2 separate regions of the Homo sapiens genome follow, and region 2 is linked to region 1. Evidence: fine-mapped expression QTL. A gene starts in region 1. The other region holds a variant in brackets. All regions are shown on one strand. Distances are from middle to middle.

Region 1 (16,635 bases):
TTAAGGGAGAGAATAAGGAGGAGTTAAGGATAAATCCTTTAGCTTTGAAGTTTAAAAAAATAAAGCAATTTATCTTTGTAACATCTAAGGGTGGGAAACAAGGTTACTCGGATACTCTTTAAAGTCAGCAGAAGGTCCTGATCTAAAAAAGTTGCAATGGGAATACAAAAGAAATTCTTTTTAGGAGTCACTCATTAAAAGAAGAGAGAAGTCGACTTTAAAACTTTTGAGTATGAATGACTGATACAGGATAAAAGTGCACTTCATATAATAATTAGGAATATCTACAAATAATACATACTGACTTTATTTTCTTGTCTTAGAAAATGAACTCCCCCTTCTAAATAAGCTACTCTCCACTGTGGCCACTGAATACCCCTGTTTCTCTAGCAAGATAAAATACGACTTTTGTGTTCTATCTCTTCTAGAAAGTGCTTTCTACTTGTTTAAGTAGTGCTTTCAATGAAAACTTTATGAACAGTACTGATCATTCCCTTCTCTATATTCCAATAACTGTTGTTGTTTCTACTCTTTATTTGAAGTTTCATATGTATTTCCTTGTACTGTTTTTATTTTAATGTAGTTGTTTTTGAATTATAAAATATATACAAAAAGTGTGCAATTCATAAGCGTACAACTTGACAAATTTCACAAAATGAACACACCTAAAGTACTATGAGTGTATTAGTCCATTTCATGCTGCTGAGAGACATACCTGAGACTGGGCAATTTACAAAAGAAAGAGGTTTACTGGACTTACAGTTCCATGTGGCTAGGGAGGCCTTATAATCATGGTGGAAAGTGAAGGCACATCTCACATGGCAGCAGACAAAAGAAGAGAGCTTGTGCAAGGACATTCCCATTTTTAAAACCATCAGATATCATGAGACTTACCCACTATCACAAGAACAGCATGGGAAAGACCTGCCCCCATTGTTCAATTACCTCCCACTGGGTCCCTCCCACAACATGTGGGAATTCAAGATGAGATTTGGGTGGGGACACATTCAAACCATATCATTCCACCCCTGGCCCCTCCCAAATCTCATGTCCTCACATTTCAAAACTAATAGTGCCTTCCAGACAGTCCCCCAAAGACTTAACTCATTTCAGCATTAACTCAAAAGTCCACAGTCCAAATTCTTATACGAGACAAGAAGTCCCTTCCGTCTATGAGCCTATAAAATCAAAAGCAAGCTAGTTACTTACTAGATACAATGAGGGTACAGGCATTGGGTAAATACAAGCATCCCAAATGGGAGAAATTGGCTAAAACAAAGGGGCTACAGGCCCAATGCAAGTCTGAAATCCAGCAGGGTAGTCAAATCTTAAAGCTCCAAAATACTTTCCTTTGACTCCATGTCTAGTTCATGTCTGGGTCCTGCTCATGCAAGAGGTGGGCTCCCATGGCCTTGGGCAGCTCCACCCCTGGGGCTTTGCAGGATATAGCCCTCCTCCTTCCTGGCTGCTTTTATGAGCCGTGGCTTTTCCAGGTGCATGGTGCAAGCTGTTGGTGGATCTACCTTTCTAGGACCTGGAGGATGATGGCCCTCCTCTCACAGCTCCACTAGACAGTGCCCCAGTAGGGACTCTGTATGGGGCTCTGACCCCACATTTCCCTTCCACACAGCCCTAGCAGCAGTTTTCCATGAGGGCCCTGCCCCTACAGCAAACTTCTGCCTGGGCATCCAGGCATTTCCATACATCATCTGAAATCTAGGCAGAGGTTCCCAAACCTCAATTCTTGACTTCTGTGCACTCACAGGCTCAACACTATGTGGCAGCTGCCAAGGCTTGGGGATTACACCCTCTGAAGTCACGGCCTGAGCTCTATGTTGGCCCCTGTCAGCCATGGCTGGAGCGGCTGGGACGCAGGGCACCAAGCCTCTAGGCTGCACATAGCACAGGGACCCTGGGCCCAGTCCACAAAACCACGTTTTCCTCCTACGCCTTTGGGCTTGTGATGGGAGGGGCTGCCATGAAGACCTCTCATATGCCCTGGAGACATCTTCCCCATTGTCTTGGGGATTAACATTGGGTTCCTTATTACTTATGCAAATTTCTACAGCCAGCTTGAATTTCTCCTCAGAAAATGGGATTTTACTTTCTATTGCACTGTCAGGCTGCAAATTTTCCAAACTTTTATGCTGTGCTTCCGTTATAAAACTGAATGCCTTTAGTAGCACCCAAGTCACCTCTTGAATGCTTTGCTGCTTAGAAATTTCTTCCGCCAGATACCCTAAATCATCCCTCTCAAGTTCAAAGTTCCAGAAATCTCTAGGGCAGGGGCAAAATGCCGCCAATCTCTTTGCTAAACCTAACAAGAATTACCTTTTCTCCATTTCCCAACAAGTTCCTCATCTCCAACTAAGACTACCTCAGCCTGGACTGTAGAAAGAGGTTTATTTGACTTACAGTTCCACATGGCTGGGAGGCCTCACAATCATGATGGAAGGTGAAAGGCAAGTCTCACATGCTGGCAGACAAGAGAGGACAGCTTGTGCAGGGAGACTCCCGCTTTTAAAACCATCAGATCTTGTGAGACTTATTCACTATCACAAGAACAGTATGGGAAAGACCTGCCCCAATGATTGCCCCTTGTCCCTCATCTGAGACAAGGCAAGTCCCTTTTGCCTATCAGCTTGTAAAATCAAAAGCAAGTTAGCTATACTTCCTAATTACCTCCCACCAGGTCTCTCCCACAACACATGGGAATTAAATGAGATTTAGGTGGGGACACAGCCAAACCATATCAGTGAGCAAGAAATGAAACATTACCAATCAAAGAGGTCCATAGCATGCTTCCTTCCCAATTCTACTCACTACACATCCTAGTCAATTTTTGTCTTTAAACAACCTTTTTAAAGACTAGACACCTTATATATTATCAGATCAAGAGTGAGTCCTAATACTTTTTTCAGTTATGAGAGCAATTCAAAAGAATATATCTAGAAAAAATTATTTTACAAACCTAAGATTCTCAAGTTTGTATCTCCAGCTTATACCTCTCCCTTAAACTCAGCTTATATGTATACACACACATTACATATGTATGTGTACACATTAACACATGTAACATCTCCATTTCAATGTTGAACAGACATATCAAATCTAGCATGTCTAAAAACAAATTTTGATCATCCCTCAAAACCTGTCATTTAATTAAATGGCAGCCATATCTTCCCATTGTTTAGGCCAAAACTTTTGAAGTCACCTTTGACCTCTCTTTCTCCCACACTCCACTTCCAAATCATTAGGAAATATTGCCGGTTCTACTTTTAAAACAAATCCAGAACCTGATCACTTCTCAGGACTTCCTCCACCACCCCAGTCCACACTACCATCATGTTTCCCTTGGATTACTAAAAGAACCTACTAACTGCTTCCTGCTTTGACTGTCCCCCATCTCGACCAAACCAGTCTCAATTCAGTAGCCAGAATGAACTTTTTAAAACATTGTCAGATCACATGACTCTTCTTTTAAAAACCTTTTAAAAGATTCTCATCTCATGCAGAGTAAAATCCAAAGTCTTCACAGTGCCTCCTTCCCTATGTGATCTGTGTGCCACACTTCCCTGCCTGTCATCTCATTCCCTACACCTCCCACAGCTTACTCTGCTGTCAGCCACAAGGATCTTTGTAGTTGTCCCATCTGTGTTGAAAACACATTCTCATGGCTCATTCCCTGTTAGCACTAACATCTTTTTGTGAGGCCATGACTGATAGTGCTATTTAAATCCCAACCCCAGATTTGGGGAAACTCCCTGTCTTCCTTCTCTGTTTTATTTCTCTCTATAGTGCTTATCACCATGTGACATATCAGGCGTCTTATTATTTACTTACTTATCATGCTTTCATTCAAATTGCTGTACCACTATTACCCAGAACAGTGCCTGAGGCATAATAGGTAATTAAAAAAATGTTGAGTTAATAAATAAATGAATATGACTAATTTCATATCTGTCATTTACTTCCTCCTCTCCAGTCTCTTGAAATGCTTTACATAACACCACCTTGTATTTGGCCAAATACTTGCATCTTCACACATATCATCTGTCTTAGTCTGTTAGGTCTGTTATAACAAAATACCATAAATTTGGTAGCTTGTAAACAAAGAAATTTATTTCTCAAAGTTCTAAAGTCTGAGAAGTCCAAGATCAAGACAGTAACAGATTTGGTATCTGGAGAGGGCCTACTTTCTGGTTTATAGATGGTGCCTTATAGCTATGTCCTCAGATGTGTAAAGGACAAAAAGCTCTCTGGGGCCTCTTTTTAAGGGTCCTAATCCTATTTATGGGGGCTCTGCTCCCATGACCTACTGGCTTCCAAAAGCTCCATCTCTTAATACCATCACCTTGAAGGTTAGGTTTCAACATATGAATTTTGAAGGAACGCACATTCAGACCATAGTATCAACTCAATAAATGCCTATTTCTTAATTCAGGAAATTGGCCATCAGTTTATATTTTCTAAAAATTTTCTAAAAAGAGAGAGAGAGACAGAGTTCCCTGAAGATTTCCTATATCACAGTCTTATGATAATTTTAAAGACTGCCTCTTCATAAATTATCTCAACAATTTTTCCTTGGAGGTCCTCCCATCCTGTCATAAATTTACAGCATGAAACATTGAAGTAAACATTAAACTTTACTAAAAGAACAAAGTCTTACCAAAAAAGTAAACCTTTTGAGTTAATAAGAGAGTTGAGCAAGGTTGCTGGATATGTAAACATAAAAGGACAAATTATATAAAATAGCAGTAAATAGAAAACAAAAATAGATGTCTCTCACAAGAACATCAAACAACATCCATATCCTGAAATAAATCTAACCAACAGATGTAAGAACCCTGCACCAAAAACAACAAAACATTACTAGAAAAAAATGACTTAAGTAAATGGATTAGGTTCATAGATTTGAAAACTCAGTAAAGATGTCAGTTCTCCCCAGATTAATCTATAGATCTAACAAAATCTCAATGCAAAGGGTGAAGAATAGCCAAGGCCATCCTGAAGAAAAAAGCTAAAGTACATACACTGCTACATATCAAGACCTATTATAAGACTTTATTAATTAAGACAGTGTGAAATTAGTAAAGGATGAAAAAATAGAACACAGAAGCAGACCCATGCATTTATGGTCACATGATTTATGACACAGACAACACTGAAAATGAAGAGGAGAGAGAGTGGTCTTTCAAATAAAAGCCTGATTAATTGGTCCCATCTGGAAAAAAAAAAAAAAAAAGACTTGACCCTCACCTCACACCATGGACAAAAATCAATTCTGGTGGTTTACGAATCTAAATGTGAAAGGTCCAACAATAAAGATTTTAGAAGAAAACATAGGACAGTATCTTTGTAGCCTTGGAGTAGGCAAAGATTTCAAAAAGTGCTAGCCATTAAAAAAAGTAATAAATCAAGCCAAATTAAAATTAAGAACTTTTGTTTATCAAATGTATTATTAAGGAATTGAAAAGGCAAACCACAGAGTGAGAGGATAGTCATAATACATGTATCTGAAAAAAAAATTATATCCAAAGTGCACAGAAAACTACAAATCAAAAGGGAGACTTCCCAAAAGAAAAATGAACAAAAATCATGCACAGATATTTCACAAGAGAATATCCAAACAGCCCAAAAAAATTTTAAATTCAATTAGTCATTAAGAAAATTCAAATTAAAACCACAACCAATGTGATATTACTCTGTACCCATGAGAACAGCTGAAATGATAAAAATGTTAAAATATCACATGTTAGGAAGCTATGGATCAACTGGAACTCTTATATGCTGCTTTTAGGAGTATAAATCAGTACAACCATTCTGAAACACTGTTCACCAATATCTTTTAAAGCTGGGCATGTAATTTGGCAAGGCTAAAGAAAAGAGACCAGATGCAAAAAGAGTATATAATTCCATTTAGATAAAGTACAAAAATAGGCAAAATTAATCTAGGCTATACAAAAGTATTGGGTGAATGGGTCCTGACTGGCAGAGAACCTAGAGCATTTAAGATTCTAGTAACGTTCTTTTCCTTGATTTATGTGCTATTAATAGTTACATAGGTGTGTCTGGTTTGTGAAAATTTATTAAGGTAAAGCAAAAGTTTACTACAACATGATAGAATTCAGTGGTGTAAAAACCATTAGAATTTCATATTCAAGAAATTATAAGTACAAGTTTACATTAATTTAACACTGGTTTGAACACAGAGATTAGCCAATCTTTCACTTTGTAGTGTTATACAGCAGAAGTCAATACTTACAGTAAATTTAGCTCTTTCTTCCATCACTTCATAACCCAGTATAGTAGGTGTAGATGGTCTATCTTCCCAATTCACTGTTTCCGGATTTTGTTCTTCAGTGTCTCTTGGTCTAGTAGAATACTCAATGGAAGAAGCTGTACCTGTAAATTTAGTCCTAATGAGGGGACTGCTACAGACAGATGAAGTATTATCCATTTGATCAGGAACACTTGTCTGTTTAAAATTACCCATATTTGAGTCTTCTAACTGGCCCTTAGAAGAATTTGAGCTTGTTGAGACACTGCCAAAAGAAGAACTTCTTTGATTTCTGTTTGTTGTAAAACTGGAAGCAGAGTTTCCTATGGGCATAGGAACTGGGACATAAGGAGTTGCCATCTTCTTTTGGCTTTTCCAACAAGCTTGCACACTGTTGAGTCCACTTAGAGAACAACTAATATGCAATCCATTATTTTCTTCTTAGGAATTCACTATCTAAAAATGAAAAGGACATATTAAAAGGTTAGTCTTTAATGTGCAGCAGGATTCAAAAGAAAAGTATTCTTTTCAATTTTATGACACTATTATTTTATTTGGAATGAAAACATACCTCAAACCCCTTCTCCCAGTTGTCTTTAAGGACTCCTATTTGCAAGATAGAGAGAGCAAAACTACTTCACACTCTTTTTCCTTGACTCCATGTTACATGTTATCCCTTTTTCCTCTACTTTATTCCCTTGTGAAGTATTTCTGTAAAGTTCATTTTAACCTGATTTCATGTATGTAAAAGTTGGTAGGAGAAAGATTGGTAAAGACCCTTCTGAAGCTTTATTCCATGCTTATCATCTTGACAGTACTACATTCAGTACAAGAGAGAAAAAAGAAAAGGAAGAAAACTATTTACATTACCTCTGGATTTAATCAGAAAGGGAGGAAATCTATTCACATTACCTTTCAATTTAATTAGTGAAACTATAAAGATTTACACAGAGTAGTAACAATGAACCAGATGCTTTGATGCTACATAGTATAATTCTATAGAACCCAGGATTAAAAATACACACTTGGTCAAGTTACTCAAATAAAACCCAGTGAACACTGAACTTATATGCAACAAAATTAAATAGTGAAAATTGTAACCGTTCTTCACAGCTTACAGGTCATCACTAATTCTGCTCTACGATAAACTGAGGGTATTTAAATCTTTATAACTTACACTCAAGAATCTGTTATCAAACGGACCAGTATATCTTGTGTCAGAATAGTATCATAACACAAAGAAGAAATGGTTTACTATTACTTTGTTAAATAATAAACTCATAAGAAACTGTAACAACTACAGACCAACAAAATGACAAGACTACACACAACAATAACTGCCCAACTTTTCATACGAAACTCTACTGGTGGGAAAGGTAAGAAATGAGTCACCTGGACTTGGAAAGATGCTGAAATAAGATTTTTAACTCTGGGCTGGGCGCTGTGGCTCACGCCTGTAATCCCAGCACTTTGGGAGGATGAAGCGGGTGGATCGCCTGAGGTCAGGAGTTCGAGGCTAGCCTGGCCAACATGGTGAAACCCCGTCTCTACTAAAAATACAAAAATTAGCCGGGCATGGTGGCGCAGGCCTATAATCCCAGCTACTTGGGAGGCTGAGGCAGGAGAATCGCTTGAACCCGGGAGGCGGAGGTTGCAGTTTGCCGAGATCGTGCCATTGCACTCCAGCCTGGGCTACAAGAGGAAAACTCCGTCTCAAAAAAAAAAAAAAAAAAGATTTTTAACTCAAGTGGCTCTCGGCAACATTTCCCCATTATCAAAGATTCATGAAACTTTAGCTGCTGATTCACCGCTCCTCGGTTCCGCCTGACGGCCTCCCCAAAAACAAGTAAGTCTGAAATCTCAACCTTCTCAAGGTCCGAGGGATCTACCTGGCCTTTGCCACTCTACTACCTGAGGCCGCCTGGCTGGGGGGAGGTCGCATATCAATACATATCAACACAACCACTGACGTCCGAAGATGTGAGCGCTACCCAAGCGTTAAAAAAACAAAACAAGCAAACAAACAAACAAAAAAACGTGCTGTGCTCATTAGGAGCGTCTTCGCCTCTACCCTGATGCGGAGTTGCTCCCAGGACGCTCAGTTCATTCTCACTCTGGAAAACCTCAGGTGAGGTGGCCCGACTCTGAGCAACCCCGTGGGCGGGAGGAAAGAGGCAAATACCAGGCACAGTTCGACCCTCGGAAGGTAAGGCCGGGGTCTGCGCCGGTCACGGGTCTTCCGCACTGCAGGCGGCGAGACCCGCAGCTCCCTGGGATCACAGACTCTCCCGCCTCCGCTGACCGGTGCGCGCCCAGCGCCTCCCAGACGCACAGTGGGGTCGGCGGTGGCCTGAAGGTGGCTGGGCTTCCTGCGGCGCCTCTCCACTCTCCCGCGGAGCCCCTTGCCGCCCGCCAGACATCAAGGTTGCAGGTGTCACCCGTACGAGAACCCGGGACAGCGACCGCCTGTCCTGAGGTAATGACCCAGTCTTTACCTCAGCCCCCTCGGCGATCCCGAACGAGCGCGCTTCCCGGTGACGGTTAAACCGGACTCTCCTTAACCGCAGCTTTTCGCCTCCTCCCTCAGCAGCGAGAAGCCTCACGTGACACCCCCGCCCCAAAAGCAGCTGCTCCCCGCCTCAGCCAGTCTCTGCCCGGGCCCAAGATCCCTGCTGTGTGGAAGGAGGGGCCGAACTGGGCGGGGGGGGGGGGGGGGGGAGAGAGAGAGAGAGAGAGGGAGGGAGGGAGGGAGGGAGGGAGAGAGAGAGAGAGAGAGAGAGAGAGAGAGAGAGAGAGACAGAGACAGAGAGAAAGAGAGAGAGAGAGGGCAAGAGCGAGAGACAGAGAGAGAGAGAGAGAGAGAGAGAGAGAGAGAGAGAGAGAGAGAGAGAGAGAGAGAAAGAGAAAGAAAACGAGCGAGGGAGAGAGCGAGAGCGAGAGAGAGAGAGAGAGAGCGTCACACACACATCTCTGCCGGAAGTGATGTCACGGCATGGGCGCCCGCCCACCGGAGGAGCGACTGGAGTTGATCGGCTGGGCGCTCAGGTAGCGAAGATAAATGTAATCTTGTGGCAGGAAATCGACATTCTCTGCACTATCTTTAGTTTTCCAACTGAACTTCTGAGAAATGGAGGCTACAATACCTAGTTTGCCAAACAGGAGAAGACTACAATTCCCAGAAGGAACTGCGACCAACATTGGTCCGTGCTCATACTTTGCATCATGGGACTTGTAGTCATCACCAGCTTGCGCTGATTCTAACAGGTTATAGATTGTTTTCTAGAATTAGCAGCGCTTTAAGGGATGACAATCGATTAGAAGAGTAGGAAGATAGAACACTGCTTAGTAGCTGATCCGTTCTACATAATTCAGAAGTTCTCATTGGCAGAGAACCCCTGAAATTCTGTAGTGTCTTTTTACTATCCGGTGAGCAATTTGATCCCGATGATGGAATATTAGCCTTGTTAGACATGCGCTTCTGAAGACCTGTGCAGTAGGGAAAGCCGAGTTTTTTGATAGGCAAATCCCAAGATTCAGACCGGTCTACAGGTCTGTTCATCATTAGAATCAGATAATGTGGTTGAAAAATCATTCCACGATTTCTAAGGCTTTTGTATAGTCCCAATGTTACCCATGGAGGGTCTTGACTACAAGTCATCCAGGTTCTTGGTTTTTTTAACAAAGAATTGGACAAAACGCACAAAGAAAGCAAGGAAAGAATGAAGCAAGGAAAGCAGAGATTGAAATGACTGTACACTCCACAGAGTGGGAATGGCCTCCAGCCAGTGGCTCAAGAGCCCTGGTTACAGGATTTTCTGGAGTTTAAATATCCGCTAGAGATTTCCCATTGGTTACTTGGTTTACACCCTCTGTAAATTAAGGAGTAGCCTGCAACCAATCAGAGGCTAAAGTTAAGTTACAAAGTTGTACTCCTATGGAAATGAAGACTAGGCCCAGATACCAAGGGCCTAGAAGGTTGGGCAGGGGGTTGCAAAGGGAATAGCCTCTGGTCTTTTTGTTACTTGGGCTTGGAAAGTTGGAGTTTTCCTTTTGATTTAGTTCTAGGAAGTCAGCGTGAATGGGCCTTAGGTTCCCTGCCTCCGGACCCTATTCTACTGCCCGACTAAGAGTGAGAAAAGGTGATAGTGGTCATTTTGAAATGAAGGTTGGAAAATAGTCTGGTTTGTGACATGATGATGGTTTTGGTTTAAGAGATTCTGCCCTTTTAGTGTGAATGAAATAAAAATAGAATTCTGTAGAAACAATGTTAGGTAGGAGAATAGGGTCTGGAAACAGGGGACCTAAGGCTGATTCATGCTGACTGATATCAGAGGCGACTCCATTTTCAACCCCTCTTTTTTCTGCGTGGCAGTTGCTGCGTGGCAGTTGCAACCCTCCTTTCTTTGGGTGGCAGTTGAAAAATGAAAGAACCTCTGATAGAGCCCCTCCCTCAACCAATCAGACTGGTTGAGGGCCTACTTTTCACTCTGATTGGTCTCCTTCCACAACCAATCAGACTGGGCATAGGCCAATGGGAACCCTCTAGAGGGTATTTAAGCCCCAGAAAATTCTGTAGCTGATGCTCTTGAACCCCTTGACTGAGTCTGTTTTCCTTCTGTGGAGTATACTTTCATTTAAAATAAATCTCTGCTTTCCATGCCTTGTTTGTGTGTTCTGTCCAATTCTTCGTTCAAAACACCAAGAACCTGGACAACTACCCTCAATTGGTAACATATTTTGGTGAGCCAGCCAGAAGGTAAGCCCAAAGTTTGGGATTTGTATTTTTCTTTTTCCTCTTTCTCTCTCTCCCTTTTCCTTTCCAAGCTGGGATCCTTGATGGACAGTGCCTAAGCATGGAGGCAACTGCAGGTTTCTGGCCAGGGCCACTCTCTGGTGAAACTAAAAGGTCCATGTGGAAGCACCTGACTGCCACCACCTGGTTCAGGTGAGGAACCTGAGTTCTTTTCTTTTTCAGTCTTTCAGTGGCCATTTCCTAGTAGCTCCTTGGTAACTGAAGGCAACTGGGGCCACTCTCTGGTGTTAACTGAAGGCCCAGGAGTGAATGGGGATAGCTGCCTTGCCCAGAAAGGGGAAGGACTCTTTTCTGTCTTTTCCAGTTGTAGTCCCTGATGCCTATGAGTGATGCAATTGGCAGTGGCAGCCTGTCCAGGGAAAATTCACACATGTTTCAGGTGGCTTAAGCCTTCTTTCCTTATGTTAAATTCTTCCGTCCCCCTACTTGACTGGCTAAGGATAAGTCACAGAGTTTGGGCATATTGTGGTCTGTGTAACTCATGGAGGGGATTCATGAAAGGGAATCTATGTACAATTTAATCTTGTCCAAATTTAGAAAGTTAAAGAATTGTTTTAAGTGTGATAGGAAAAAAAATCCAAAGGTTTGTCTGAAAGTTAATTCTAGAAGTAGAGACCTTCATCCAGGGACAAGAGGGAAAACTCACAGTGGGTCATCAGTGGTGGTTGGAATCATTCCAAAGTGGTGGTGGCACCAATCTAAGGTCAGAGACGTCTAATGTACTAAGAGGGGTCTCTGGCACTAGAGGATTGACTGCACCCGCTCCCACCAAGGGGCTCAGTTAGGCAAAAGTCTAGCAGTGTGAAAGGAGGAATTAGATGAAGACTGAAGGGGCCTAGAGTCTTCCTCACTGCCCCTGTCCAGGAACATCATAATTACTATTGCAGAGCCCTGGGTAACTAGATGTCATGGGTACCCAAATTCAGTTTTTTTTTTCCAATACAGGGGCGAATTACTCTGTCCTTACTGCTTATGCAGGAAAACTTTCCTCCCAGTCTAAGAGTGTTCCGGGAATGGAAGGAAAGCCACAAACGAGATTCTTTACTTCTCCTTTGTCAGTTTGAGAAACAAATGTTCCAACATAAATCTTTAGTAGTTCCAAGCTGCCTTGTCCACCTGTTGGGAAGCGATATTATCATTAAAATAGGGGCACTACTACAAATTTAAGCATTACCCAGTAAAATTGCTAATAGTCAAAAATACAGACAATATCCCAGACCACATTAATAAACAGGTTAACCTGCTAGCATGTTATGCTGGGAAGCCAGGTGTATTAGTCCATTTTCACACTGCTGATAAGGACAAACTCGAGACTGGATGATTTACAAAAGAAAGAAATTTAATGGACTTGCAGTTCCATATAGCTGGGGAGGCCTCCAATCATGGTGGAAGGCAAGGGAGGAGCAAGTCACATCCTACGTGGATGGTAGTAGGCAAAGAGAGAGGTTGTGCAGGCAAACTCCCTCTTATAAAACTCTCAGATCTTGTGAGGCTTGTTCATGATCATGAGAACAGCAAGGGAAAGACCTTCCCCTATGATTCAATTACCTCCCACTGGGTGTCTCCTATAACATGTGGGAATTCAAGATGAGATTTGGGTGGAGACACAGCCAAACCATATCACCAGGGAAAGCTAAAACAGCAGTGCCAGTCAAAATACCAGTTTAAAGACCCCAGCTATTGCCCCAATTGAAAACAATACCCATTTAAGCTGGAAGCAAGAAAAGGCCTGGCATCCATAGTTGAGATATTGCTTACCCATGAGCTCTTAAAAACCTGCAATTCTCCCTGAAACACCCCCATCTTAACCATTCTAAAGCCCTTGAGGGAATACCTGCTAGTACAGGATTTCAGAATAATTTATCACACTGTTATCCCCGTCCACCCATTGGTGGTGGATCCATATACCCTCCTGGCTTAGGTGCCAGGGGATGCAAAATGTTTCTCCTAGACCTAAAAGATGCTTTCATCTCTATTCCTCTGGCCCCAGAATCCCAATACCTTTTTGCCTTTGAATGGGAAAATCCTAATACCAGAAAAAAAAAAAACAATACATTTGGACAGTACTCCCTCAGGGCTTTCAGGATAGCCCTGATTTCTTAGCCTGATCTGTAGAGAGGGATCTGAGGGATCTGCAATTGGAGAATGGAAGTATATTCCAGTATGTGGTTGAACTTCTTGTGTGTAGCCCAACCCAGGAGGCTTCTGACCAAAATACTATAAAAACGTTGAATTTCCTGGCTGACAGAGGATGTGAAGTGTCCAAAAAGAAGGCTCAGATTACCCTCCAATGGATCCAATATTTAGGGTATGTCTTAACACCGGGAACCCGACAAATATCCCCAGAATGAGTGCAAGCCATATGTGGTTGCCCCACAGCCACCAAGCGCAGCTTTGTTCTTTCTGGGGAATGGCTGGGTTTTGCAGAATATTGGTACCAAATTTGGGGCTTGTAGCAAAGCTCGTATATGAAGCAACAAGGAGGCCTGAAAATGAGCTAACGGAATTGACCCCAGAAATGAGAAGCCTTCACCAAGCTAAAATAGGCCCTTACCAGGCTCCTGCTCTTGGCATCCCAGACATAACTAAGCCCTTCTTGTATGTAGCTGAGAAGGGCGTAGCTGTGGGAGTGCTAGCCTAGAAATTAGGATCAGAACCCAGACCAACTGCCTGCTTTTCAAGGAAGTTGGATGGAGCAGCCTCGAGATGACCAAGTTTCCTGCAGGCAATAGCCACTGCTATGTTTGTGGAGGAAGCCACTAAAATCACCCTGGGCCAACCACTGGAAGTTCTAACCCCCCATCAGGTAAAGCCAGTCTTAGAGATAAAAGGACACATGTGGATGATGGAGGAAAGGTTAAACATATGCCAGGCCATGCTGCTAGACAATCCAGATGTAACCCTTAAAACTTGTAACACCTTGAATCCAGCTTCATTGCTACCCACAGGCCCAATAACTGATGATTCCTGTGAGCAGGTCATTGTACACACATATATTAGCTGGCCTAATTTAAAAGATTAGCCTCTCCCAGATTCTGAAGATAACTGGTTCACAGATGGCAGTAGTTTTGTGTCAAATGGGGAGTGCTGAGTTGGATATGCAATGGTAAATCACAACACCATTATTGAAGCCCAGCCACTGCCCCCTGGCACATCAGCACAAAATACTGAAATCATTGTTCTTACCTGAGCACTAATGTTGAGACAAAGGAAAAAGCTTAACATCTATCCAGATTCTAAATATGCGTTCCTTATGTTTCATGCTCATGCTACAATCTGGAAAGAAAAGGGACTACTAAATAGCAAATACTCCCCAATAAAGCACGGGCCTGAAATTCTTCAGCTGTTGGAAGCAATACACCTGCCAAAGGCTGTAGCTATAATCCATTGTAGGGGGCATCAAAGGGACTTACTTCCTATAGCACAAGGGAACAGAAGGGCTGATAGAGAAGCTAAAGCCGTATCCCTCAGGGTGCAATCCCAACAGATCCTAGCACTGCTTCCTTTCTATGATTCCTGAATGGATCCTGAATACACGCTATAGGAAGAACAGTTAATAAAGGAACAAGGGGGACAAAAATAAGTATCCGGGTGGTATATGGAATCAAACTAAATCTCCCTCAAACAGCCCAGTGGAGATGCCACCCTGGCCATGGTTAACAGGCTCTTCATTGGGCCTAACTTAGATTCAGTGGTTAAGCAGGTCTGTCAATCCTGCTCACTGTGTGCACTTAACAGTCCAGGAAACAAAATGCTTCCTCTAATAGAATCAGTCCAGAGGAGAGGAACTTACCCAGGGGAACACTGTCAATTAGACTTCACCCAAATGCCCGCTTGTAGAGGATACAAGTTTTTGTTAGTCCTGATAGATACCTTTACTGGTTGGGTCGAAGCTTATCCTACCAGAACAGAGAAGGCTATTGAGGTTATAAAGTTTCTCTTACAAATAAATAGTCCCTTAGTTTGGGTAACCTCAGAGTCTCCAAAGAGATAATGGCCCATCCTTTATCTCCCAAATAACTAAAGGGGTCGCTAAGACCTTCAGAATCAAATACTATTTACATTCAGCATGGAGGACTCAATTCTTCGGGAAAGTAGAAAGGGTTAACCAAACTCTAGAACAAGCATTAGGTAAGCTATGTTAGGAAACATCAGAAATTTGGGTCAGCTTACTGACTATAGCCCTCTTAAGGATCTGCAATACCTCTAGAGCAAAAATTAACATAAACCCATATGAAATGTTATACGGAAGGCCATTCTTAACTAATGATCTAATTACTGATCCAGAAACAGCTGGTTTAGTGAAATACCTAGTTAATGGACAATTTCAGCAGGCTTTCACAAAAGTTTGGAACTCAAAGGTTCCCCATACCAGGAGCTAACCAGCATCCCAAAATCAGGCCAAGAGATAAGATACTTGTTAAAACTTGGAAGGAGGGATCGCCTGCTCAACAACTACAGCCCAAATGGAAGGGAACATTTTCAGTGGTGCTGGCCATGCTTTCCATGGTCAAAGTATTAGGATTTAAATAATTGGATACATCTTTCAAGGATCAAGTCTGTGATACCTGAAGCCTCAGACCTGGAACCTGAAGTTTCCTTCAGCCACTACACCTGTGAACCTGTGGAAGACCTGAAGTGCCTGTTTAGAAGACAGCCAAAAGATAAGTAAATGCCTACCAACTTTCCTTGGTGTTTTTGTTGCATAGTTATTGTAGGTTGGATAATAATAGCCATATTTTTATATATTTGGCTGGATAATAATAGCCATATTTTTATATATTTTTGCAGTTTTTCTTTTTTCAAATGTTTGGAATCACTCCCTTTGTAGCAATTAAGCAGAATGTTTTAATTTCTCCCTATAACAAACATTCCTGATAGCATAGGTATCCACCCCCTGAAGTTCCCATTAGATCTTTTAACCAAATTCATTTCCTCTCACCTAGAGACCATTGAGCTTCATATGATCATGCAACAACATTGCCAGCCAGTTCCAAATGAAGATAGCACCCCCAGCGATCAATAAACTACCCTGCCTCCACTGGATAGAGCAGGGAAAAATTTCCATGATCAGCAATAGGTAGGGATTGCACCCCAAGTTAGCATGAAGCAGCTACAGAAGAAAGACCATCAATCCCTCTGCTTCCCATAAAGATTTATGGGAATCACATCTCTCAGGGGGAATATGAGGCAGGAAAATAGGGTCTGGAAGCAGGGAACCTAAGGTTTATTCATGCTGACTGGATATCAGAGGCTACTCTCTTTACGACCTCTCCTTCTCTGTGGCAGTTGAAAAATGAGACCAATATCCCTGATGAACATCAATGCAAAAATCCTCAATAAAATATTGGCAAACAGAATCCAGCAGCACATCAAAAAGCTTATCTACCACAATCAAGTCAGCTTCATCCCTGGGATGCAAGGCTGGTTCAACATATGCAAATCAATAAACATAATCCATCATATAAACAGAAGCAATGACTAAAGCCACATGATTATCTCAATAGATGCAGAAAAAGCATTTGACAAAATTCAACAGCCC
Region 2 (16,635 bases), 49 kb after region 1:
AATTTTAGCATGTACATGGGGGAAACAATTTACCTTGTTGAGCTGTCTCCTTTCCCAGATTGTAGCATTTGAGACACTGCTGCTGTTTTTCAAAGTTTAGAAATTTTTAATGGTGGAAGCTCCAGAGAGCAAAACTTATTTGAGAACACCCTCTCCCATCCCATATTCAGAGCCTTTTATTTTTGTATGTCTCTTTTGTACTGTTCATCTACGTCTGACACTGATAACGCAAACCTAGAACTTTATGAGTACAGTGTAGTATATGTAAAACTCAGATTCAGCATTGCTAAATCCTTTCCACATAATACTAGCAAATGTTGTTCTGCCTCCTAATGTTTAATAGACCTAGGTATAAAAAGACTGTTTCTTACATTTGAATCTTTGCCTCAGCCACACCTGTTTAGGAAGCTGCACCTGAATGGTCGAAGCTGAAACAGCACTATCTTGTATCCTAAATCAGCCCAAGTCTGCTATAGATCAACCATTTGATGAAGCTCTCAACCCCACATTTCTTACGGTGATTATCCAGTTTAGTCTTAGTGTATATGGCACTGTCCTTGAAGAAAGAGCTTCCATAGGCTGTGGTTACCACCAAATGAAAAAATACCATGGAACCTAAAACTTAAAGCCTTTCAAGCCAGGGCAGAGGAACAAAACAAAACAAAAAACAACAAAATTGCACAATTGCAAACTTCTAGATAAGCTTGATATAAATTTCTATACATCACCAACTCAAAACTGAAGCCATATATCACAGCTACTTTGGAAAAATCCTCAGTCACTATTGGTGTTAAGTCTGTTGCCCAAATTCAATTCTTATTTTGGTTACAAAGACCTTGGCCTCATGTACTAGGTATTTCCTCCCTCAAAAACAAATGCTGACCTCTTTACCCACCTTTATAAGAGTAAATCTTATATATTTGCTTGGAGCAGTAAAAAGCATAATCTTTTGAAAGGAGTTCAGCTGCCAAAAGGAGAAGAGAACTAGCTAGGTAATAACACATGCCGTTTCTCCTGTGGCAGCCAGGAAAATGCACTGCTTGCATCTTCTGCAGCAGGGAACATAATTGACTGACTGCCCCAATTTCTGCCTCTCTCGATCCAACTCTGTAATTACTCAGAAGCTTTGCTACTTGTGGGCTACTCCCAGTCAGTGACTGAGCACTGCTTAGGGACTGTGCTAGTCCATTCGTGCAGACTCCTCTAATGGGCCCATTATGAGGTCCCACATTGGCCTTGTCAATCCTCTCTTGGAAATAAGAGGCTGCAACCTGAGACTCTTCTTACCCAGTTCTACCAAATAAGCACCAGACTTGCATCTCTCCTTCATTGTCTCCCTTCCCCTCATCCCTCGTAGGCATTTCCCCCCAAAGAACCTCTTGCATGTTTAATCCCATCTTAGATTTTCTTAGGGTTTAAACTAACACACCTTCCAGACTCATCGTATTGTTGGATAATCTCTCCTAGAACTTAAAAGCAGGTGAATTTTAAATTCTCTAAATTTAAATGTTAAATTTTAAATTCTTTAAATTTAAATGTTAAATTTTAAATTCCATTCTGGGACCTCATAAACATGGGTTCTTAGAGGCGAAAAAAAAAATTAAAAAAATTAAATGAGATAAATAATGAAATGTTACTCATATTTGCTTTTGAACTTATTTAGAAACATATTTTACTGAAGTTTATATGATTGAAAATTCTTTTTGTAAGACAAGTATTAATTGTTGGGTTATGATAAACAAATCGTCACTACTTTGTGTCATACTTAGCTTTTAGCTTTAAACAACAGAAAATTGGTCAATGTATTGACCACATATAGACTATGGTATAGTTAGACATATGCACTTGAATTCCCAACCAGAGTCCCTTATAGGGATTTCACTTTATACACTGATACTTACTCAATCCTAGGTTGGCATTATTGTCTATGGCCTCGCATATGAGTTGGTAATAGGAACAAGATTTTTTTCTGTTGTTTTAAATAGTGTACAGAGGGGATATTTCATTCAAAAATATGGATCATCTAGCCCACTCGTTTTGGTAGATACAATGTTTTATTACTCTAAATATTATATATGCATTATATACATTCTGTTGTATATAGGAAATATTTCATAAGTTTTGTTTTTTACAAAATTTACTAATTTATACACTACCAGGTAGCTATATAAATGTGGTCGTTTCACCATGTGCTCACAAAGATTGATGATTTTTACTCATTAACATTTTTACCTCTTTATTCAGGTTCAGTCACTATCTCTTGATGGGTAGTCAAATAGGCTTTTGAGTACCTCTGAATGATTTTCCATTTCTTGAAGTGTTCAGAAGTTCTTCATCTTAGACACTGGTCTCTAATGTCTTTGAAAATACATGTTTTCTTCAATTGTGAACACACATTTTTCAGATTCAACATCACTTTTATTTGCTTTTGAAGATATGTCTTTCTTTACTGGTCTCCAAGTGATTATCCCTAATGTCTTCCGCCCCCAGCGCCAGGTGAATTTTGTGTATGCTATCTTGTCTATTTACTAAATTAGACTTTCTAATTGTCCACTTGTCTGTTGAAAAAATTCTATCTAGCTATGGTGACAGAAACACACATAAACATAAACATATTTATTTATTTTTTGACACCGAGTCTCACTGTGTCGCCCAGGCTGGAGTTCAGTGGCGCAATCTTGGCTCACTGCAACCTCTGCCCTCCAGGTTCAAAGGATTTTCCTGCCTCAGCCTCCTGAGTAGCTGGAATTACGGGCGTGTGCCACCCCACCTGGGTAATTTTTGTATTTTTAGTAGAAGTGGGGTATCACCATATCAGCCAGGCTGGTCTCGAACTCCAGACCTCAACTAATCCGCCTGCCTCGGCCTCCCAAAGTACTGGGATTACAGGTGTAAGCCACTGTGCCCGGACAACATATTTATTTAAATTGGGAAAATATATGGCTGTTAGAGTGACCAAAATGGGTATCATACAAAGAAATTTGTTCTCATAGGTTTTGGGATGGAATGGGAGAGTCAAGTACCCAAATGAGAATGCACCCATGATGCAGATGCACATTTTCTGAAAGCTAGAAATGACTGCTACATAAAAAAGCTGGTTGCAGTGGCATATGCCTATGGTCCCAGCTACTCGGGAGGCTGAGTCAGGAGGATCACTTGAGCCGAGGAGCTCGAAGCTAGCCTGGGCAACATAGTGATAACTTATCTCTAAAATAAAAGAAAAGAAATGACTCCTATAACCAAAACCCTGGGAAAGTTAAGAGATCCAGGAGTGCCACAGGAAAGAGCTAGTGCCTTGTGCAGCCAGTGGCAAAGGGAAGCCAAGAAGCTGTTTGTCTCTCTCTTCATTTTGTCCCAACTGAAAGACCTTCCACAAATGGGAAAATTTGCATGGCATAAGCAACCTTAGTTCCTATATACCATTTACTGCCTTAATGCTTGTTATTTTTAATTTGAATGTTAATGACAACTTATTTTTAGAATCTTGTAAAAACTTGTAAATTGAATGTGTACTATGTGTTTTAATTATTGTTTTAATTTCTTGGGGAGGAATTCAAGGAAGCCTATTTAGACATGCAGCTACAATTCCTTATTATACATATATACCTATATGTACATACTATTGCTTATAATATTGATTTCCAAGATGATGTCGTTGAAAGGCCTTTAGATAGAAGACTTTGTTTTGGTCACAATATTACTATTAAATAGGAAGTAATTTCTCTTTGTAGGGCCTTTACCTTTTTTATGCTAAACAATAAACAAGTGTGTTAGGTAAAATAATTTCAGTCTCCATTCAGTAATATGAATTTATTAGTTTGTCTTAATTTAAGAAGATGGTGAAGAATAATAGAGAATCTGTAACTTAATTTTGCACAAAATGATTCTCATGTATATGTACTTTCTACTTGGTCACACACTGACATTTATGAGGAAATTGTATTAGGAGGTTTTGAATATTTCTTACCTATATAACTTGAAATAGATTGTGAAGAATCAATAAAATTATTGAAATAGTTTTCATTATAAAGGTGGAAAAATTTTCTGTATGATAACATAACACTTCAAATAAATTTAGGAATACTGCAAACGGATTAATGTAAAATTAAATTATTGAACTTCAGGCATATTATATAATTTCATTTTTATTCATGTGGAAGAATAGAAACATAAACTAGTGGAGATAGTAGAATATTTTAGAGAGAAATAGTCAATTTAAGTGCAAGTAACTAAGAATGATTGTTGATAGGTGTTAAAAAAAAAAGAACCTCCCCCCCATTTTGATAATTATTGTGAAAGGTAATATACTTATTTGAGAAAAAAGTATCTAAATATTTATCTTTTTTTCAGATTGAGAGTATATTATCTTAAATTGTGACTCAAATATTTTGTCATTCTTGATTACAGTTGAGATTTTACTTAATATTACATTACATAAACCATTAGCTGAGAATAATTGAAGCATATTGCAAACCACTAAACATAATAATCTTTTGTAAAGAGTGAAGACTGGAAATGAGTTTTCAATTTTTTATAACAAAATTCCATTAGTGGTGGTTTATATATTTTTAGCCAGAAAGTATTTTTGCCAAATAATATCATATGTAAAACTGCAACTTAGGAATAGATTGAAAAATTGATTAGAATGATGCTGGTGGACCCAGAGTCCAATTTTCTTGGCCACTTAGTTCTCTCCTTTTTTTCCACCCAACAAGGCTCAATACTCTAGAACTCTGGGCATTGGAAAAGCAGTTTGAAAATCAATACCTTATTGCATAAAGTATGTAACTGTAGTATATGCAGTAAATTATTCTATAAATGGAGACATTAGCCTATAATATAACCAATATTTGAGAGACATTTTTTTATTTATGCATATAAAATACAAGTGATTGTTTTCTTACTAATAGAAATTAAATCTTTGCATCCTAAAGAGAGTTTAGACTAGACTATGAAAAAAGGGTAGTCTAGTTTAAAATGGTGCTCCTGATTACTTAGAAATAATCAAATGAACTACGGAGCTTCTATGTAGGAAATCAATGTGCATTCTCAAGAAAATGAAATAAATTATTGCTCCCAAGTTTGCTCAAACTGCTGCATTAAAATCCTGGCTAGAATCAGATGGTTGTGAAAAACACAGCACTGTTGATTTATCAAAATACTAGAAAACATATTTTATTTTGGGATCTTTTTATTGAGTGTCTCACTTTGGAAAGATTTAAAATAACGAGTTTCAGATCTGGATGTTTCTCCGGATGTTAATGAACTGCTCAGATGTACTCAGGCGAGGTTAGCTGGAAATCTCTCCAACATGTTTGATGGCATTTATATAATGTGATTGTCTTCATAGAATGTTTACCACTGAGCATCTTCCCGAGAAGCAGTCAATAAACACTTGACTGATAGCTCACAGAGCTACTAAGCTAACAGATGTCTTTGTTGACAGTCTCAGTATAGCCAAAGCAGATTTACTCATCATTGTTTACAAGTTTTCCCATCTTCCCCAGTTTTCTGTCAGGCTTAGTCATAAACACTGTACCATCTTCTCTGAGCATGTAATCTCAGATTCACCGTACTTTTTCACTTCTCATGACTCTAGTAGTCAACAAATCAAGAAACGTTATCATTTCCCTAATTCCACAAAGCCATAACTGTATTTTTCAACCAAAACCTGCCCTTGAGTCAGAATTGGATTATTCCACAGGCAAACCAGGCAAAGGTCTGTTGGGCCTCAGATTAACTCGTATTTTTCCAGAAAGGGAGAGGCAGCATCACCAGCTAGCTGTAACAATATTCTTGTCCTTGATAATGACATCACACTGGATGACACCAATCCTTGAAAACCTTCAAGGTAGCTTGATGTTATGGAAATTACCCATGCCCCTGAGCAGATTTTATTAGACACTTTTATTTGTGAGCCAATGGTATAATCACATTGTGCTAGGAACAACTAGAGAGAAACCAAGCGTGCACAGTCTATCACGTTAAGAACCTAAATATGGCTTGAGTGGCATTATTGTATTGTGGTGAAGAACACAGACTCTAGAGCCAGATCGCCTGAGTTCAAATCCCTCTTCTGTTGCTTACTACCTGTGCAACCTTGAGCAAGTTAAATCTTTTATCTCTTGATTTCTATGTCTTAAATGAGGATTATGAAAATAACTATCTCATGCAATTGTGATAATTAAATAAGTTAATATAGGTTACTTATAGGTCCCAAGTGCCTGACACGTAGTAAGCCCTATGTATATTTGCTACTGTACTTGACAGGGCACTTCTTTGTCTCTTTATTTCTCATTTGCTCATGCCACATATATTTTGAATTCATCAAGCTGAACTCCAAAAGCGGTAATGAGGAAAACACCTCTCTAGTATTTGTTTGTACTAACTGATGTACGTATGTGTGTGTATATGTATGTGTGTATGTATGTATGTGTGTGTTGCATTTGAAAGAGAAGGAGCTGAGAATAAAGCCAGCAGTTTGATATTTATCTGCAGGTCTATGGACTGGGTTTGAATGGCCATGTTTAAAAGACTGACAGAATGATAACTGTAAGAGAGATCTGGGAAGTGCCAAGCAGGCTGTGATGGTCAGAAGCTGAAGAAACTCTCCAGTGAGACTTTGTGAATAGCAAACAGTTACTCTGGAGTGTTGCAGAATAGCTTCTGAAGGCTGACTCTATTGATTAACCATCACTTACTGCACTTCACTTTAGTCTACTTGCCTAGTTCAAATAAATCGATACCCCCTTTAGTATTGGGCACTTGAACAAACAAACAAAAACATCCTATTTAGTGGGCACAAGCCCATAATAGGAAAAGCTAAGACTGAATAGTTTTTCAGGTCTCATTCTTCCACTTTTGGCTTCAGAGCAGAAAACCCTCGGTGATAGAATATTCTATCCCTGGAGCTTGGGCAGCTCCAGTGTGGTTCCTCCTAGGCCATGAGTAGCCAGGATCGATATCTTTTCAGTCCTGGGACAGTTGGAGAAAGGTCCATTCTGATGAATGCGTAATACCAATTGTAGCAGCCCAGTTGGTGAATAGAGCTCAGACCTTTCGAAGCATTTCCCCTACTGCCTTTCCAAAGACTTCTCTCTGTCAGGATCTTGCAGGTTCCTGTCTCTTAAGGCTGTCACAATGAGCTAATGACCCATTGGCTTATTTCCCCCTAGAATCGAGAAAGAGAAGGGAGGCCTCAATTACTGTGACGAGCCAGAAGACAGTAGCTTCTTGTTATTTGTGGTAATTGTGTTCTTATGTTTGAATTTTAATCAATCCAGTACATGTACGTAAGGAAAAATCAGTTTAAAAACTTATAGCAAACACAGTAGCTTTCTACCCCGCTCTTCTCCACCCCAGATCCTGCCCTTTAGAGGAGAGCTGCACGCGCTTCTTTGCATCTGTATAATTTCCACTATTTCTAAAGAATCTGCTTCTGCTGCTAGCTTTTGTTTTATTAATTTTAGGTATCTATTGGCTTCTGTTATTGTAGTTAAGGATGGATCTTATTTACATGACTTCCCCTTCCTACTGCCTCTCAATGTAGTTTTATCACTATTTTTGGTTTTCACTATCAATCTTTAGAATATTTTGACCACTGAACTACATGTAGATTGTACCATGATTATGTTTCATATCTTTCATGATAATTTTGACAGCTCTTGTTTGTTGTTCTCTACTCTCCTGTTTTCTTCATTCTTATGGAATTATATTTTTTCATTTATTTTCAATCTTGAGTAACTTGTTTTTGCTCCTTGAAAACTTGTAAAATTTTCTCTTTACCTTCTGTGTTAGTGTTCTGTGGTTGCTGTAATAAATTATCATAAATAGGGTGG[C/T]TTAAACAACAAAAAAATTATTCTCTTACAGTTCTGGAGAATAGAAGGCTGAAATCTGTATCACCTGGCCGAAATCAAGGTGTTGGCAGAGGTGCACTCCCTCTAGAGGCTCTAGGGGGGATTCCACCCTTTGCCTCTGCCAGCTCCTGAATGTGCTACAGACATTTGCTTTAAATGTTTAGGGGATTATTAAAATAGACGAGCAATGAATAGCCTTCAGAATAAATCTTGTTTTCCAGGCTCTGATGGCTGCTGGCATTCCTTGAGACTGGACATCACTCCAATCTCTGTCTCTGTGGTCACTTGGCCTTTTCTTCTGTGTGTAGTATCTATCTGATGCTCTCTTATACACACATATGATGGCATTTAGGCCCTATCCAGATAATTCAGGATAAATCTCACATCAAGATTCTCAATTTAATCACACCTGCAGACTTTACTATTCAAAGTAACATTCACAGGTGCCAGGGATTAGGAATTGCCATCTTTGTGGGTCATTATTCAGCATACTACACCTTCAAATTCCATTATTGCCATGTATGCCCTACTGTATGTCTTGTAAAATCTTCCTGAACCTCAGTAAGAACCTTAAACGTACAGATTCAAAACATTTTTTAAAATCACAAATTTTTTTCATTATAATGTCTTTAATTTTTTCTTTGTTACTTTTTCCCTGAAATTTCATGATTTATTTATTAGATATTTTAGATCTATTTTTTCCTTTTTCCTTATGATTAACTTCTCCATAAATTTTTTTTTCTTTTGAGATATGTTTTCCTCTGGATCTTTAAAGACACTAATTGGGTTATCAATAGTGGCCATTCTTTCAATTAAACTATTTAATTTTTTAAAGAAAAATATCTAGTAATTTTTGACTCACAGAAATCTCACGGTATTTAAATCATAGGTTCTTTATTTTTGGATGCTGTCTGATCTAGTAGTTTTGATGTTCTATTTGTTCTTTCTCTTCTTCTTTTTATGCTTATTGTTACTTTTTTTTTTTTTTTTTTTCTCTGTCTTGGGTGCATTGTGCTTTTATTCTTTTTCTTTACCATTGGGGCTTAGGTTTAGCTGCTGGGATATCTTAAAGTAGCCTCTGCTGCTATGGTCTTATTTCTTCACATCTAGTAATTTTTGATAGTGTACTAGATATTGTAAAACATATTTATAAAAGTATGATTTTTTTTCTTTAAAAGTTTGGATTTTGAGCTGGCAGGCAGGAAATTTACTGGTGGATCATCATAATTCTTTGAAACCTGTTTTTAAGCTATATCAACTTTATTAAAGGTCTAGGGTAGATCTTCTTCTATAGCTAGAGTAGTTCTGCTTCTAAGCTATGGCCTTTGTAAGAAGTCTCAACTGAGCGCCTGGGGTTTTTAGCAAGATCTTTCCATGGTTGCTGGTCAGAATTTCTATTTCTTCAACCAATTTGAAACCACAAAGATATACATTTTATTTCACAAATACCTAGCAGTTGTTCTCTACCATCTTCCTGAGTCTCACCATGTGCATGCACAGCTTTAGAATTTAGCCAATGTAGTAAGAGGACCCCTATATAGATTTGTGAGGTCTTTGTCTTCATGGCTTCCTTGTCTGCAGTAGCCAGTTCCACATACTTCAGCCTTCTTAGCAACTTTAAACATTGATTTTTGCTTCCTCAGCTCAATGATACTGCTGTGCTCTGCTTAACTTGCCTCCCTGCATTATAGTCTGGAAAGATTTCCCCTGTAGAAATTCAGGCCAATTATGGGGCTTACTTTGTGTGTTTCCTCTTTCTCAGGGATCAGAGTTTTGTGCTGCCTTTTGACTAATGTCTGACAATATCGCTATGTGTGTTGTCCAATTTTACAGTCATTTACCATGGGAGGAATAGTCTGGTACCAGTTACTTTATTATGTTTATAATCAGACATTTTCCTGCTGCCAATTTAATATATTCACTTGAATATTTTAAAGGCATTTCAAATGCAACATGACCAAGAAAAAAAAATTAATGGTCCTCTTTTCCCAAATCTGGTTCAGTTATACAAGTTGGAAACTTAGAAATCATCTTTGATGTCTCCTTCTTTCTCATCTTCCACATCTGGTGAATCATCAAGATACCTAAGTATCTCTTGAATTTATACTTCTCTCCATCTCCACCACTCACCTGTTAGATGAAGCATCATGTTGAAATAGCTTCCCAACTGATTTATTTAATAGTTAACTCTTGACTCCTCTATCAGTTTATCTTCTCATTGCAGCCTGGCTGATCTTGTTTAAAAGTCAACTGGGTCATGTTTTTCTCTTCTCCACATCTTGGTTTGAATCCTTCAATGGCTTTCCATTGGTCATAGAATGTGGGCAAAACTCCTTAACATGGCCTTGTAATCTCTGCATGATCTGTTCTCTACCTACTAGACAGCTTTGTTAAAGATCTCATTTACCTTACTCTCTTCACTTCATTCCATGAGATTTTGCTCATGCTATTTTCTTAGGAATGGTTTTCTTTCATCTATTTAGTTAATTTTCTCTCACCTTTTAGGACTCAGTCTTATTATTTATCTCTTCTTTACAGAAAATTCCTGACTAGGTCAAATTCCTAAATTAATATGTTCAAATTCATATATATCAATTGAAATTTCACATTTGTGTGACTTCTTTAATGTCTTATCCTCTGCTACAGTAAATACTATAAAAGCAGTTTCATTAATATTTTTTGCCCATACTTAGCAGAATGTCTGAAATAGAAGTGATAAAGTAATATTGCTTGAATAAGAAAATTTGCTCAAAATCAAGAAGATGGTAACTGTAGGTACATCACTGCCCATACCTGTTATCATATGAGAATTGCAGGCATAGTTTCCATTAGAAACATAAAGTTCATATTTATATCAGTGTCAGAAATGTCACAATACCAATTTCTATATTGGATGGCAGCTCTCTTTTAAGTAAATTCTGCTTATTATCAAATCATAAATAAATATTTAGAAGTTTCTTGCTGTTTTCAGAATTTAAATACTAAAATCCCAAAAGCAGGTATAAAAAGTATTTTTAACATCATACAAGTGTTAAATTTACACATAAAATGAACAACATCTAAAGTTACATTTAGTAGCAGTATACCATGATTCTATCATATTTATGTTAACTTATGCTGGTTTGCTTGTATGCCAGACACTATTTGAAGTGCTTTGAAAGTATTAACTCATTTAACTATTAAAGCAACATTATGAAGAAGGTATTATAATTATTATTTCCACTCTATAGATGAAGAAACAGAGGTACAGATACATTAAATAATTTTCTAATGTTCAACAACAGAATCAAGATAAAAACCCAGAATTGTTGGCTTTAGAGAGTTTAATAATTTTTAGATTCTTTTTGCGTGGCTTCTGGATTCTAGCCAGTTTCTTGAAAGTCACAGTAACTGTACAATGAAAGTTTGGCCCATTTATACGACAGAGTTTTATTATACCTAGTCTTTGAAAATCCATATGTCCTACATCTCAGTAAAGGAGGTGAGACAAGTGAATATGTATGTGGAGATAGAGATAGGTACATTGTTAACATTCTATGTGGTATATTTTTCTTACCTCATGCTTCCCTTGAAGAAAAATAGTGTTAACTCTGAAATATTTGTGGGGGTTGTAAAATGGGCAGAATTTAAGGATTTCAATGTGATCTATTAGATTGAATGAGAGCAGCCAGAAAATTAGTTAAATGTACTCAATTTGGTAAATGATCTGTCATAGGACTCAATTTAAAAAATCCTTTTAAGCAGAATTTAGGTTTTGTGGATTTGGCAAGGTATCAAATCTTATGAAATATTTGGAGGTCTTAATTCAGCAGTGGACTCAAAATAGATTCTCCTTAATGAGAGTTAAAAGATAAACGGCAAAAATCGAAATACAGCTTGCTGTAATGTTTCATGAAATTGCCAGATTGCCAGATGATACTTAATTGGAAGCTCAGAAAATAATGATGAGCAACCTAATCAGAAAAAATGTTTTTGGTCTAAATTCCTGAAGAAGGAGATTGCACACACAGTAGACCATAAACTGGAGACATCTAAAAATGAGTTTGTGAAAAACTAAACACTAGTCCCTCTAAACAAAAACAGGCATACAAACAAAAAATAGAAACCAGCTGTTTACATTAACGTATCACTACATTTTTTGAGAAGGAAAGAATTTACTCAGACTGAAAAATGAAAAGTAGCTCTGAATGCTTCTGTGCAATAGTGTGTCTCTGTACTTAGCAGCGACTGCTAAAAGTCTTTCATCGAAGTATATAATACATTTGCTCCATTTAAGAATTACAGCTTGGCATGCAATGTGTCCAATTTTGTCATTACTTGAGGGAGAAGAAAAAGTGTGATCAGTATACTAGAAATCTTGTTCTGGAAATTCAGAGTTGCATTGCTTTTCTTGTAATTAGCATCTTAACCTCTGGGTATATTTTATTAGAGAGACAAGAAAAATTCCAGGGATCCTGTAGAGTTGTACCATGTAATACAAGCGGCAATTTAAATTCAAATTTAAATAATTAAAGTTAAATAAAAGTAGAAATTTAATTCCTCAGTTGCATTGGCCACATTTTAATTGCTCAGTAGCTTCTTGTAGCTAGTTGCTACAGTATTGAACAGAACAAATATATAGAATATTGGACAGCACAGATACTAAACATTCCCCCATCATCTTAGAAAGTTACATTGCACAGTGCTACTTCTGAGTACTTATATTTGGTCATCTCAGTTCTGTTTTCTTATTTTTATTTTTATTTATTTTTTAGAGATAGGGTCTTGCAATATTGTCCAGGCTGGTCTTAAACACCTGGTCTCAAGTGATCCTTCCACTTCAGCCTCCCAAATTTCTGGTATTACATGTGTGAACCATCATGCCTGACCTCAGTTCTGTTTTCAGTTTCCATGGTTTTATTCTATCTGTCTGAAGCTCATATTAATTTTCCATGTGGATATATTGTAGTGAAAATGTCTTTCCATTATTCATTTCTTAAAACTCAATCTCCTAATCTGTGGCTATTAAGACTTAATTTACAGGGTTTTTAATGAGCATTAAAGTGAAATAATATAAGAAAACTGACACATAGTAAATTTGCAATGAATACTAATTTGCATTCTTTATAATGTAATCTTTTTTTCAATGATAATAGATCATACTCCTTGGGGAATCTGGTGAAGGTTATGAGGACTAAGAGCTGATTTTTTTTTGTTTTACCCAAATTCCTATCTAAGGGGTCTGGGGAGTCATGCCCTACAAAACATAAATTCTTATCAGATGGGTTATATTTAACTCTATATATCATGACTTACTTTCCAACCTGACTTTGGCATAATATAATGAGACAAGAAAGAAAATTAAAAATTTTTATCCCAAAACATATTTCTTTGCGGTATCTCGAAATGGCCCTGCAAAGCTGTCCTTTGTGGGGGAAAATTTGCATCTGTAAAGAATCTGTTAACATAGCTAGATCTTTTTCTTCCAGGCCCTCCCAATCCTAAAGAGATTAACTAAAAGTCTAGCACCTCTTAAAGATCTGAATAGGAAACACCTGTCATCTATTGTCTCTAAGGGCAGCCATTGTAAGACTTCAAAAGAACCTTGATCGCCACAATCTTTCATCTTAACCTCAACATTTCCTTTCTACTGATCCCAGGTCTTTAGACTAACTCAGCTAATTATCAACTAGAAAATGTTTAAATTTACCTATAGCCTGGAAGCCTCCCCCTACCCCCAACCCCGTTTTCAGTTGACCCACCTTTCTGGACCAAAACAATGTATTTCTTAAATGTATTTTGATTGATGTCTCATGCCTCTCTAAAATGTGTGAAATCAAGCTGTGCCCGACCACCTTGGGCTTATGTTCTCAGGACCTCGTGAGGGCTGTGTCATGGGCCATGGTCACTCATATTTGGCTCAGAATAAATCTTTTCAAATATTTTACACAGTTTGACTCTTTTTGTTAACAGTTATAGGAGAAATAGATATACTCTGAGTTTAGAGAAAGCCTGTTTCGACTTCTGCATGACTTTCATCTAATATTCTTATCTTCTTATTTTTTATGCTCCTTCTATGTTATCCTGTCATAGTACTTCTTAGGGAGTGTACTGTTCCTGGTCTCTATGCCATTTTCAGGCATGGCTTCTGTATTTATCCATTTACCATCAAAATTGGGCAAGGGAATAACAAGTGACATTAAGTGGCTCACTTATGTGTCAAATATGTTTCTCCCTGCCTCTGTTGTATATTGGTAGCTTTATCTCCTCCTGATGATCAAATTCAATTACCTCTACCAACCAGGTGATTTTTCTTTTCTGCTGCTCCCTTGTTATGTGAAGTCCAAAGTGCTAGACTGACAGCCATAGATTAAGGTTCACGGGGACTCTTGCTGTTTCCCCTAGTAGAAGCATTCTTTCTTTGGTAGTCAGGACTTCTCAACCTGCAGAGCCCAGCACTGTGAGGCAGGAAACAAAAATTCCCCATGTGGTGTTTCACAGGGAGTGATATAAGTGAGATGATCTTTTCTTCCATCTCTTGGTTTTCAGACCCATGCATTTATGTCTTGAGGACACAGCCATTATCTATGTATATGTGTGTATGTGTATATGTGTGTGTATGTGCATTTGCATTCTGGAGGACAGTGGCCCATTCTTATAGGGTATTGTCTCTGAGCTGGTGCCTTAGCCATACCTTCTTGAGTAGGCTTTTCTTTGCTTTAGCAGGCTGGCAGATTCTGGGTAATTCTGTATGTGAGAGGACCATGGAATCTCAAGCTCATGTGTCTACTGCTGTGCTTCCATTGGTCTGATGTGACTTTGTGTGGGATTCCATGTTGACAGAGCAAATACTCTTTAAACATTTGGATAATAATATAGTCTAAGGCTCTATAGAAAGGAATGGCAGCTGGGCACAGTGGCTTATGCCTGTAATCCCAGCACTTTGGGAGGCCAAGGCAGGCGGATCACCTGAAGCCAGGAGTTTAAGACCAGTCTGACCAACATGCCAAAACCCTGTCTCTACTAAAAATGCCAAAATTAGCCAGGCATGGTGGCATGTGCCTGTAATCTCAGCTACTCAGGAGGCTGAGGTAAGAGAATTGCTTGAACCCAGGAGGTGGAGGTTGCAGTGAGCCAAGATTGTGCCACTACACTCCAGCCTGGGCAACAGAGTGAGACTCTGTCTCAAAAAAAAAAAAAAAAAAAAAAAGAAAAGAAAAGAAAAAGAAATTGCAACTTATATCTTAATATGTTTATAGCAGGCAAAATAAATCATTACTCTTCCAGGGTAGAAGGTGTCAACTTGCCACCAAGTATCTCCTTGATGTCCTTGAAATCCTCCTTCTTTTACCCTTAGTCTTTATGCTATTTAATCATCTTCAGCTACTTTAAAATCATATTTTCTAAAGCATGGTCTCCAGCAGCAGCCATCTGATTCCATTGTCATTATAATTTTACTATTTTCCCAACATTTCTCAAACTGTAGATGAATTCTGTCATGCACGTCCTTGTGAAGAGACCACCAAACAGGCTTTGTGTGAGCAACAAGGCTGTTTATTTCATCTGGGTGCAGGTGGGTTGAGTCTGAAAAGAGAGTCAGCAAAGGGAGATGGGGTGGGGCCGTTTTATAGGATTTGGGTTAGGTAGCGGAAAATTACAGTCAAAGAGGGTTGTTCTCTGGCGGGCAGGGGCGGGGGGTCACAAGGTGCTCAGTGGGGGAGCTTTTGAGCCAGGATAAGCTAGGAGAAGGAATTTCACAAGGTAATGTTATCAGTTAAGGCAGGAACCTGCCATTTTCACTTCCTTTTGTGATTCTTTGGTTACTTCAGGCCATCTGGATGTATACGTGCCGGCTTGGGCTCAGAGGCCTGACATTCCTGTCTTCTTATATTAATAAGAAAAATAAAATAAAATAGTGTTGAAGTGTTAGGGCAGTGAAAATTTTGGGGGGTGGTATAGAGAGATAATGGGTGATGTTTCTCAAGGCTGCTTTGAGTGGGATTGGGGTGGCGTGGGAACCTAGAGTGGGAGAGATTAAGCTGAAGGAAGATTTTGTGGTAGGGGGTGATATTGTGGGGATGTTAGAAAAAACATTTGTCGTATAGAATGATTGGTGATGGCCTGGATATGGTTTTGTAAGAATTGAGAAACTAAACGGAAGACACAGGTCCAAATAAGAGACGTAGAAAAACAGGTATTAAAGGACTAAGAATTGGGAGGACCCAGGACATCCAATTAGAGAGTGCCCAAGGGGGTTCAGCATAATTACTTGGTTGGCGAGTTTTTTGGGCTCTATCCTTGAGTTTTTTTATGTTGTCATATACCAGGCCAGATTGATTTAGTTTTGTAAAAACACTCTTCATTTTAAAATATACAGAGTTCTCTTTTTTCAGCAGTAAGTCAAGGCCTCGGCAATTTTGGAGGAAAGAGAAATGCAAAGCCAGCAATTGTTTGTTAAAGAAGGATTAGAAACGGCTAGGAGGGAGTGAGTGAAATTGATAGTGTGGTGGAGATAGCTGGGGAGAGGTAGAAGGTGGCATAAGAACAGGAATGAGAGTAAGAGTGAATGTAAAAGTAAAGAATAGGACCTCATCAGGGTGAAAGTATTGGAGTGTACCTTGCCACTGAAGATCTTCTATCCACTTTGAGAGACTTAAGGGTGGCAGTTTGAGGTAAAACCAGGAGATATCAGTTATGATGGTTTGGAGGAAAAGTGTAAACCAGCAGTGTAAACAAGGGCAGGGCATTTATGAGTAGTTGAGAATAGTGAATAGGAGTATGACTAGACAGAAGATAGTAG

The links. PIP is the estimated chance that this variant, and not a neighbour inherited with it, causes the effect.
Region 2: its variant is fine-mapped to the expression of LINC02235 in thyroid (GTEx, PIP 0.95).

Annotation. Positions count from the first base shown.
Region 1 is chr8:81,833,347-81,849,981 of GRCh38, forward strand. It overlaps LINC02235 (long intergenic non-protein coding RNA 2235), which reads left to right and starts at 9,273. Exons shown (of 8, transcript NR_170320.1): 1 at 9,273-9,325; 2 at 11,105-11,225; 3 at 15,645-15,761; 4 at 16,040-16,173. It overlaps SNX16 (sorting nexin 16), which reads right to left and starts at 8,839. Exons shown (of 8, transcript NM_152836.3): 1 at 8,776-8,839; 2 at 6,266-6,736. The coding sequence starts at 6,640. RefSeq lists silencers at 514-714, 8,393-8,442 and enhancers at 7,913-8,845, 8,773-8,822, 9,254-9,523.
Region 2 is chr8:81,882,687-81,899,321 of GRCh38, forward strand. All of the region lies in intron 7 of LINC02235 (long intergenic non-protein coding RNA 2235), which reads left to right. Among named protein-coding and RNA genes, the nearest start is that of LINC02235, 48 kb to the left of the region's middle. RefSeq lists a silencer at 1,104-1,270 and enhancers at 12,795-13,569, 15,120-15,893. The variant C/T (reference allele first, on the strand shown) is at 7,839.